Linked DNA regions of Homo sapiens: region 1 is linked to region 2. The links come from fine-mapping of genetic effects on gene expression. Tissue or cell type: tibial artery. Region 2 holds a variant in brackets; the other region holds the start of a gene. All regions are shown on one strand. Distances are from middle to middle.

What was found.
Region 1: MECR starts here. The variant in region 2 is fine-mapped to the expression of MECR in tibial artery (GTEx, PIP 0.99).

The regions. Positions count from the first base shown.
Region 1 is chr1:29,228,662-29,234,037 of GRCh38, reverse strand. MECR (mitochondrial trans-2-enoyl-CoA reductase) reads left to right here and starts at 3,104. Exons shown (of 10, transcript NM_016011.5): 1 at 3,104-3,307. The coding sequence starts at 3,132. RefSeq lists enhancers at 3,093-3,202, 2,727-3,227, 3,228-3,728.
Region 2 is chr1:29,178,428-29,183,803 of GRCh38, reverse strand. SRSF4 (serine and arginine rich splicing factor 4) reads left to right here and starts at 1,904. Exons shown (of 6, transcript NM_005626.5): 1 at 1,904-2,158. The coding sequence starts at 2,052. It also overlaps a transcript of MECR not described here. RefSeq lists enhancers at 576-1,213, 1,556-1,785, 1,214-1,851, 5,370-5,376 and silencers at 1,856-2,065, 2,116-2,305. The variant T/G (reference allele first, on the strand shown) is at 3,216.

The sequences.
Region 1 (5,376 bases), 50 kb before region 2:
ACCCAGAAAAGGAAACTCAAGGAGAGAAAACCAGTGAACAGAAGAAACAACCAAGGGTGCTGTTTGCAGAGGGCTCTTGAGAGAGCCTCAAAATAGGAGTTTTACCAGTGATCCCATTTTACGGGTGTGGAAACTGAGGTTCAGAGAGCATATGACACTTGCCTAAGGTGACACAGCTAGTAAATAGACGGCGGGCCCTAGATTTGAACCCAGATCTGACTGATTCCACATCCCTTTGCCCTTTGTGCAGGGGAAGATGGCAGAGACTATAATGGAGGGAGAAAGAGAACACAAGCAACAGGTAGACAGATGAGAAGAGGACTTTCTGCTTTACTTTTAAAAGACCACAAACTTCAGCCGGGCACAGTGGTTCACACCTGTAATCCCAGCATTTTGGGAGGCAGAGGCGAGGTCAGGAGTTTGAGACCAGCCTGACTAACATGGTGAAACCCTGTCTCTACTAAAAAAAAAAAAAATACAAAAATTAGCCAGACGTAGTTGCGGGCACCTGTAATCCCAGCTACTCAGGAGGCTGAGGCAGGAGAATTGCTTGAACCTGGGAGGCGGAGGTTGCAGTGAGCCAAGATCGCGCCATTGCACTCCAGCCTGGGCAACGAGCAAAACTCTGTCTCAAAAAAAAAAAAAAAAAAAAAAAAAGACCACAGACTTCTATAATCCTTGAGAGAAGAAGGAAGAAGGAAATTCCTGGCCTGGAGTGACCAGCCCAAATCTAGGGAAAAGGAGATGGCACCACAGACCGTTCTAGGCCATGAGGAAATTCAATTACCTGCAACTCATGGAATATTTATGACACCTACCCTGTGCCAGGCTCATATCGGGTGCTGGTGTTATGGAGATAAACCAAACATGGCTCCAGTCTTGCCTGGAGGGGAATAAATAAGAGACGATGTACTAAAGGCCATAACACAGCTCCAGGGAAAACACAAAGGCAGCAGCAGATGACCTAGGGAGTTTTGAAACATCAAAGAAATGACATCTGAACCTGGAGTTTCCGAGGCAGGGAACAGCATTTCAGGCAGAAGGAGTGGCCTGAATAAAGGCACAAGACACACTGGGGAAGACGGGTATCAGATGCAGCTGGATCACAGGCTATGCACGGTCCAACAGGAGAAGATGAAGCTGGAAATGCAGTGTGGGAGTCAGAGTGCAAAGAATCTTGAATGCAAGTCCAGGAAATTGGACTTGAACCCCTCAGTCAGTAGTTCTCAAACTATGCCCCTGCAAGAACCCAGATGGCCTAGACTAAAAGTGAGGGCTATTGGGATGCACAGGAGGCTAAAGTCCAGCCCCAAGGAGGAGGACTTGCTGGATGATTCTTCAGGCTTCCTGACTGGGCTCCCCAGAAATTCAGAGGAGCCAATTTGGTGAAGAAGAGAATGTCGACATCTCAATGTCACCTAGGGAGTCTTACAACAGAAGGTTACGTTGTACTTCCCAGTTCAAGTAAGCCTATGTGTCACTGGGGAAAAGGGTAAGCAGGACTGGTCATCGTGTGTGTGCTGGCACATAAATGTGGGGCCAAGCCTTTCCCCCACCATGGGACACCAACTTTCTCTAATAATAAAAACAAGTACAGACATTTAGTGAGCACATACTATAAGCCAGACCCTAGTCTGAGGGTTTTATGTGTGATATTTCTCATTTAATCACAATAACCCCCGATAATATTTATCAAATGCTTCCATGTGCCAAGCATTGTACTAAATGCTTCAAGTGGATAATATCTCACTTGACCCTCACAACAATCTTGAAACAGATAACTAGTATTCCTTCCATTTTAAGAGTAAGAAAGTGAAGACACAGAGAGGCCTGGTGACTTGTCCGAAATCAAATGGCTGGAAAATGGCAGAGCTAGGACATAAAGCCAGGTTTGTCCAAATCTAGCTCACAGTACTTTGCTGTGCTCTCTTCCTCAGAGGAAAGGCTTGGAGATGGCAAGCTTCAAGTCAATAAAATCCAGGAAAGGAACTCTTCCTTATCCTTCAAAGCCCTGGCTCAGTATCTTAAAACCTGTTTCCTGGGACACCTGCATCAGAATATTCTTGGGAGCTTGTAAGGATGTAGATTCCTGGAACCCCCATCCGCAAGATTCTAATTCAGTAGGTCTAAGATGGGACCTCGGATTATTTTTATGCACACAGAAGATTTTGAATCACAGGGCTGGCTCTAACAGCACCTCCTCCAAGAGCCCCCACCCCATCCCACCCCATCCCAGAGCACTTCTCTTCAGACTACAGCATTGCACTCTGGCACGAGCCACAGCTCGATCTGGGGTTTTAGTAATGTTCATGTCTTCCCTACACCAAAAATCAGACTAGATCCTTCATAGGGCTACACCTTTTTACAGGCATTTCCAGTGTTCCACTTAATCCCTTTCTACACTGTGAGCATTTTGAGAGAGGACCCTTCTCCTTGTGATTCCTGTCTTACATCTGAACAGAGTTTTTTACAATGCGTTCTCCCACCCACAATAGCATTCCTCTATTATTTCATCCAATCCTCACAACAATCCGGAAGGAGGCATATTATCCCCATTGTACCGATGAGAAAAATTCAGAGTTTCACCTGCCCAAGGTGGCCAAGCTAGGAAGTGGCAGGGCTAGGATTTGAACCTAAGTTTTCTAACTCCAAGCCCCATACTCCTGCCTCCACAGCAGCTTTCGTGTACTCTCCTCAGTGTAGGGAAGTAAGCTTTGCCTCCCTATGCCGTTACATGGTAGTGGTGATTAAATGAGATAATACCTTAAAGAGCCTGGCTCGGTGAGCACTCAATATATTATGTGAAGGGTAAACTGAGGCCAGGGAGAGTAAATATTTCCTCCAAATCAAACACCAAACTGCAGGCTGTAGACACGACTTTGGACTAGCCCCAGACTCTCCTTGTTGAGACAACAGCTTTGGCGGCCTCGCAAGCTCCGCACCCCCGGATCCCTCCGGGGCCCACACGCAGTCTAGCCAGGCGCCACCACTTGGGCAGCGAAGGAAGGAAACGCCCTTCAAAGGGACCAAGGGGGAGTGGTCACCCGGCGGGGCAGGGGCGGGGCGCAGGCGCGCGGTCGCTGGAAGATGACGTAGCCGGGGCGTCAGGCTCTGTGTTGGTTGGAGCGAGCATGTGGGTCTGCAGTACCCTGTGGCGGGTGCGAACCCCCGCCCGGCAGTGGCGGGGGCTGCTCCCAGCTTCTGGCTGTCACGGACCTGCCGCCTCCTCCTACTCCGCATCCGCCGAGCCTGCCCGGGTCCGGGCGCTTGTCTATGGGCACCACGGGGATCCAGCCAAGGTCGTCGAGTAAGAGACGGCGCCGAAGCCGGGGAAGGGGACTGGGGTTTCTGGAAGGCTTTAACACGAGCTGCGGACTGGGAAGAGAGGGACAGGGTCCGAGGAAGGGGGCAGAGAATAGCAAACCGAAGCCGAAGCCCAGGGCGTTTTTGGTAGGTCAGAAAGACCGTACTTGAAGGTAGCTGAAGACCCGAGAGGCAATTATCAGGGTATTAATGGCTGATGTTTATTGATCGAATATTGTGTCAGGCAATCCCTTGTTTAAATGGATGCTCTCATTTAATTGTCACAACAATGTTTTGGGGTAGTTATTGATTTATCCCCATTTTGCAGATGAAAACTGAGGCAGAAGAGGTAAAATCACTCGTCCAAGGTCACACAGCCAGTAAGTGACAGGGTCAGAATTCCAACCTATGTCTGACTGACCTGCGTGAGTTCTTACTATTATTATTATTATTTGGAAGAAGTTTTCAGAATACTTTTACATCCATTTGGATCTTCATGTGTCAGTAAAGAGTAGGTCATAGATCATTGTTTCCAGAGGGCAAGGGACTTGCCCAGAGTGATACCGCTAATAAGTGATTGGAACAGGAGACTGGAATCCATGGCTTCTGATTCCAAACTCATGTTTCTCTCCACTGCACCGTATATGCATCTTGGCTTGGTTAAAAAGAGCTGCTTTGGTGCCATACAGACCCAAGTATCTATATTTGGTCAAATACAGGCTCAACGTCTTAGTAGCTGTTTGGTCTTAGAGAAGTCATTCAACTTCTCGTTACTTTTATGACTTTGTCCTCCTCCTAAAATTCTGTTGGATCTTAATTCATGCTTTTTGCACGTGGTTGATAAAAATAGTATGTCAGTTGCCAACCATTGTAAATCTGCACATAAATAGCCATTCAGAAGGGCTATTGGGGCCACTGAAGTGGAGCTAAAGCAAAAGCACAGGTCTGGGAATCAAAATACTTGGGGTCAAATCCTTGTCCTAGCTTTGCATTTGGCAAGTTACTGAGGTTCTCTGAGCCTCGGTTTCATCATCTTAAAAAATGGAGACAGTACAGACAAAGTTCATAGTGGTAATCACCTAAGATCTATGTAGTGCTCTCCACCAAAAAACACCTGCATACTCTTGTGCAGTACCTTCTTTTTAACTCTTTGATTCCCAGCAAATAGTTTGATTATTTTCCAAAGGATGGGCAAATGTGGTATTACTTTAATGGTTAAAATTCAGGCTAGAGCTGGGCACGGTGGCTCACGCCTGTAATCCCAGCATTAGGGAGACTGAGGCGGGTGGATCACCTGAGGTCACGAGTTCTAGACCAGCCTGGCCAACGTGGCGAAACCCCATCTCTACTAAAAATACAAAAAAATTAGCCGGGCTTGGTGGTGGGCACCTGTAATCCCTGCTACTCAGGAGGCTGAGGCAGGAGAACCGCTTGAACCCAGGAGGCGGAGGTTGCAGTGAGTCGAGATTGCGCCACTGCACTCCAGCCTGGGCAACAGAGCGAGACTCTGTCTCAAAAAAAAAAAAAAATCAAGCTAGATGTTTTGACAGGTGGTGAGGATAAGCCTCAGATAAATTCAAGGTCATCCAATCAGCCTAGCCACATCCCGCATTATAGAAACGAAAAGAATGTCAAGAAGACACATCAGTCAGTAAACTCCAAATTGTATGTTGATCGTAGGTAATAAAGCATTGTGTCAGGGAAGACATCTCACTAAGGACTGCGTTGTAAGGAACTGGTACAGCTCTGATGAACACTCCTCCATTTCCAGGAATGTACCCCAAATGAGAACCATGTAGTGTCTCTCCCACGGACTTGTAGTTTGTGTCTGCAGCAGGACCTGCCACAAAACAGGTGCTCCTAAAATGTTAGTTCAATCTAAATCTAAATTTCCAAAAAAAGTGAACCTTTTATTAAGTTCTGCTGTGGTGATGAGGAAGGCCTGGGAAAGTTCAGCTGAATGCAGTTGCCTCCTAATTGATTCCCTCCTCTTGGAGAGCCAGAGAAGCTGGAACAGACCGGTCTGTTTGCAGATGCCACTTAGGAAAAAAAAAAGCTTCTATTATGTCCTTC
Region 2 (5,376 bases):
TCTAATGTTTTTGCATGGCTAAAAAACACTCTTGGCAAAGTCAAAAGTCAACAAATGGAAAAAATATTTGCAACTCATTTGACAAAGAGCTGATTTTCCTAATATATAGTGAGCACCTATGAATAAGAAAAATGGGTAAAGGATATACACAGACAGAAATAGGAAAATATATCTCAAACATATGAAGAAAGACTCATATCTCTGCAAAATATGATATTTGCAAATTAAACCACTTGGAGATAACATTTTTCACCTCTCAGATTGGCAAAGATCAAAAAGTTTGATAACACGGTGTTGATGAGGATATGAGGAAACAGCCACTTAAGGGGAATTGAGCAATAACTTATCAAAACTCTGACCCAAATATCCTATTTCTAGGAATAGATGATATATATAGAGAGAGAGAGAAAGAGAGAGAGAGAAATGCAAAGTTACTGCAGCAGTGTAATAACAAAAGGTTGGAACTTATTTCAATGTCCTTCACCAGGGCACTGGCTAAATAAATTACTGTGTATAAAATGGTATGAACCATAAAACTAGTCCTTTTATACTCTTAAGGAATGATTTTCAAAATATATTTTGTGTAGAACCATATGTATAGTATCCTACTATTTGTTTTATAAGGGTAAATTAACCTCCTAAAGGACATTTCAGAAACTGCCTCTGGGAAGAGAAACTAAGTGGCTGGTGGACAGCGAAGACTTTTCACTGTGTATCATTTGAACCTTGAGTTATCCTTTCAAAATATTCAAAAAACAAAAACAAGCAAAGAAACAAAACCCTTTATGGTTCTAGGTACATGGCGTTAGTGAGAAGGGAACCAATATTTATTGAGCTCTTACCATGTTTCAGACACTGTTCCAAGTACTTTCACATACACTACCCCATTTAGTGACCTGTGTAATCCTTGAGATGGGTATACATTATTCTAATTTTACAGGTTAGAAAATAGACTGGATAGGCCAGGCGCAGTGGCTCACGCCTGTAATCCCAGCACTTTGGGAGGCCAAGGCGGGCGGATCACCTGAGGTCTGGAGTTTGAGACCTGCCTGGCCAATATGGTGAAACTTCCTCTCTCCTAAAAATACAAAAATTAGCCGGGCGTGGGGGCGGGCGCCTGTAGTCCCAGCTACTCTGGAGGCTGAGGCAGGAGAATCGCTTGAACCCGGGAGGCGGAGGTTGCAGTGAGCTGAGGTCGCGCCACTGCACTCCAGCCTGGGCGACCGAGCGAAACTCGTCTCAAAAAAAAAAAAATAGGTTGGATTGTGGTCAAGTAATTTACTCGGCGTCATGCCTAGTCTAGCTCCAAAGCTCCAGCCTTCTCCGCTTCTCACACTGCTTCTATTTAAGCAGTGTCCTCTTAAAAATAATACTGGTCTCATTTATTGGGCACTTGATATGACAAAACTACTAAGTGCTTTATGTACGTATTCTCATATAATTCTCAAGACAACTCTGGAAGGTAGGAACTACTCTCCCCCTTTTACAGAAAAGATAAAGGAGGGTCCGAGACATCGCGCGTAACAAGCCCAAGGTCACGGGTACACAATCGTTTGGAAGCTAGGTTTGATTCCAAAGCTCCAGCTCCGAAATCCAAACCACACCCGGTTCAAAGGACAAAAGCACAAACGCTCGCTCGCTGGGCTCTAGGAGGTGCGGACACTTCCGGGGGAGGGGCGAAGCCAGCTGGCTGCGGAAGGCGGTGCAGGAACCCCTTTGGCGAGCTCGCGCGAGGACGTGCCGCAGCGCCGCCTGTCGATCACCTTGCCCCGCCGCACGTCGGCGCGCCCCCGGGCAAGCTCCTCCCCCAGTCCTGGCCGAGCGGGAAGCGAACGCGCGCTCTCTCCGGTTACCTTCCGCCTCGGGGAAGGGCGGGGGAAGTGGAAGCGCGCGCTCGCGAGCTGCGTGCTCGCGTACGTCGCCGGGGTTCGGCTGCGTCCGTCCCGCCGCCCGCCCGTTGCCGCCGCCGCCGCTGCCGCCGTGCTCTCGCTTTGCCCGCCGCCGCCTAAGGGGGGCTGGGGCCGGGGCCAGCCATCACTGCCGTTGCCGGGATGCCGCGGGTGTACATCGGCCGCCTGAGCTACCAGGCCCGGGAGCGCGATGTGGAGCGCTTCTTTAAGGGCTACGGGAAGATCCTGGAGGTGGATCTGAAGAACGGGTGAGGAGGGCGAAAGAGGGTCCGGCCGGGCGGGGACAGACCCCATAGGTGGTGGGGAGGCCGCGGGGACGGGAGAGGGACGCCTGGTCCGCGCGGAGCGGCTACCGGCCTGGCCAGGCTCCGCCATAGTGGCGGCGCCTCGGGGGCGCGGGTAGGCCCCGGTTCCCACTGCGCCTGCGCGGGTGGGGGTGGTGGAGGCATAATGGGAGCTGTGCTGAGGCCCTGAGTGGGACGGGGAGAAGGAAAGCCCGAGTGGGGCTGGTGCTCCGGGCAGGGGGGCACAGCTCCAGGGCGCCCGGGAGACCTGGGTTTTCCCTTCCTAGGCCCGGAACTGGGGCCCTATTCGTTTCTGGGTAGACACCAACCTTTCCCGCTCTGAGGACTACTGGAAATAAACAGGATTTCCTGCTCCCTTTCACCTCTTGCCCGGTCTCATGGATCAGACGGTCACAGCGCCGTCTTCCCCGAGGACTGGAGCCTTGGAGGGAGGCCCTTTTTAGCCGTGTGCCACGCTTTTTTGGGCGGGAGACTCCAGTTTGAGTAGTCTAGTGACAGTTTCGAAAGTATCGTCTTGCCGTGCTGAAAGCCTTCACCGTTCCCTCTGCAAGAGTAAATTAAAGTCTTAACTTCTTATCTTTAAGACTCCGTGCAGAGTTTCCACGCTGTGGTTTCCGTTTTCCAACTTACCGAAAAATTGCTTGGCCGTTGTAGAATTTGTTAGGAGAATAGTGGCCACCCTGGCTAGTATCTGCGTCTGGTTAACGCAGACGGAGACGAAATTGTTAACTTACTGCCTCCCCCAGAGTATGATCTATTACTTGTATTCTTAATCTACTTCGGCAAAAATAGTGCCAGCATGAGCTACAGGTTTTAGGGAAAACTGTTGAGGAATCAGGCCTGGAGAAAATACTCAACGGGGAAAACTGGGAACCAGATGTTAGGTAGGGCTTGGAAGGCATGGATATAAAATTAAAAGGACTGGGGTGACATTTTAGGGCACTAAACCTTGGGTGTTAGAGAACTCTTGGCTTAAAAAAGAAACTCTACTTTGCAACAG[T/G]TGTAATATAGCTACCGTTTACTCCCCAGGGTTATACTAGTAACTGACACCTGAAACATTTTGAAAGTTACCTAAGTATGTTTCACGTATGAGAAAACTGGTAGCTACCGTATTCTCAAATGATGATTTGGGTTTAAAAAGCCATTTCAAATTAATTATTAGAATCGTTTTCTTTCTGAGGACGTCTTTAGTAAAGTACTGATTTCTTTTACAGTAAAAGGCTTTAAAAACTACTCCTTTTCTACAGTAAAACGTTCAGTTCTTAAGGATATATTGAAGTGGCGGGTAGACGTTATTGTATACATACCATATATGTGAAAGTTGAAACTCCAGTTTTTTTCAGAGCCCAGCTAAATTGACAGCATAACTAACTTTTGTGGACAAAGTGTGGATTTTGAAGCCAGCCAGGCCTAAGTCAAATCCTGGTTCCACCACTTACTACGTATGGGCAAGTTACTTCTCTGAACCTGGTTGTTCATTCATGTGGAAAAGGAAGATTAGAGATAATAAATGTAAAGCATTTGGCTTAGGCAGTAAGTGGCAGCTATAATCAGAGGGATGAGGAAACATCTTTGCTTGTTGGTGTTTGATAACATAAAGCGTGTTTGGTGAGGTCTTTTCTAATGTTACTCAGGTGATAGTGTGCAGGAAATGACAAGACTGTTAATGGGAAACTGATTCATCAACCAAATGTATTGATAACCCATCAACAAAATGTCCACCACTGTGCTAAATGAATTGGGGGAGGAGGCAGAAAACAGTTCTGCTCTTGAATAAATTAAGCATTATGACATGTGCACTTTGAATTAAGAAATGTTTGCTTTCGCTTTAAACTCTAGTAAAACTTGGAATGATTTGCTTGAAAAGATGTGTTGAAATGGCTTTGAAGAATAGATTAGAGCTTGAAGTGAAGAAATTTAGGTTTCTGGGAATAGTATATGTCGTAGTTGGGGCTCAGGCATGGTGACTTGTGCCTGCAATCCCAGCTGAAGTGTGAAGATTACTTCAGGCCAGGAGTTTGAGACCAGCCTGACCCCATCTCTAAGAAAAAAATTTTTTTAATTAGCCACGCGTGGTGACACTCGCCTATAGTCCTAGCTACTTCAGAGGATGAGGCAGGAGGATCACTTCAGCCTAGGATTTCAAGGCTACAGTGAGCTATGATTGTGACACTGCACTCCAGTCTGGGTAACAGCAAGACCCCCATCTCTAATAAAATAAGTACAATGCTGACTTTTTTTGCTTTTTGATGAATAGGGAAAAAATATTTTTTTAATGTCATAATTGGTGTTGAAGACATGGTCCAGTAAGAAGCAATTATGAAAAATAATAAACAATCTAGCATGGATCAAGCCTTATGAAGAATCTAGAAATTTAACAACATAAACCAGAAACAACGACTATTAGATTTTACACTAAAAATTCGAAATCAATGAGTAGGAATTCAAAGGCTCTGGAAGGAAGAAGTGAGCAACCCAAAAGGAAGATGGAGCGATAAGAGGAAAGAGCCTTTCAGGACCCTAAATACCTGGGTGGTTTTTTTAAGGAACTGTTCATTCTTACAGTTATGCTGCCAAACCATGATATGCATGAAATGTCATTGAAAGTCAAGGTTGAAATGAAGTCATTTTAGAGTTTCAAAGACAGGTATGACAGTCACCAAACAGCACACAATATGACCTCCTGGCATCATTGAGGAATCATTACAGAGGAAAACGACTTCTGGGAAGAAGACCAATGGTAAAGATGTATTTCAAGCAAAAATTGCCTGTATGGCAAAAACGCTGGAGAGTCTGAAAGGAAGGAGTGAGTACAAAAGAAAAAGCATAACTTAGCTACGTATGTAAGCTTATAGTCCCCTAGCAGAAGGGCAGTGGATCTCCCTACTGGGAAGCATGTTTGAACATATCTAGATTGTGATTAGTAATTGAAACTCAGAGGCCGGGCGCGGTGGCCTGTAATCCCAGCACTTTGGGAGGCCGAGGCGGGCAGATGACGAGGTCAGGAGATCGAGACCATCCTGGTTAAGATGGTGAAACCCCGTCTCTACTAAAAATGAAAATAAAAATTAAAAAAAAGTAGCCGGGCATGGTGGCAGGCACCTGTAGTCCCAGCTACTCGAGAGGCTGAGGCAGGAGAATGGCGTGAACCTGGGAGGTGG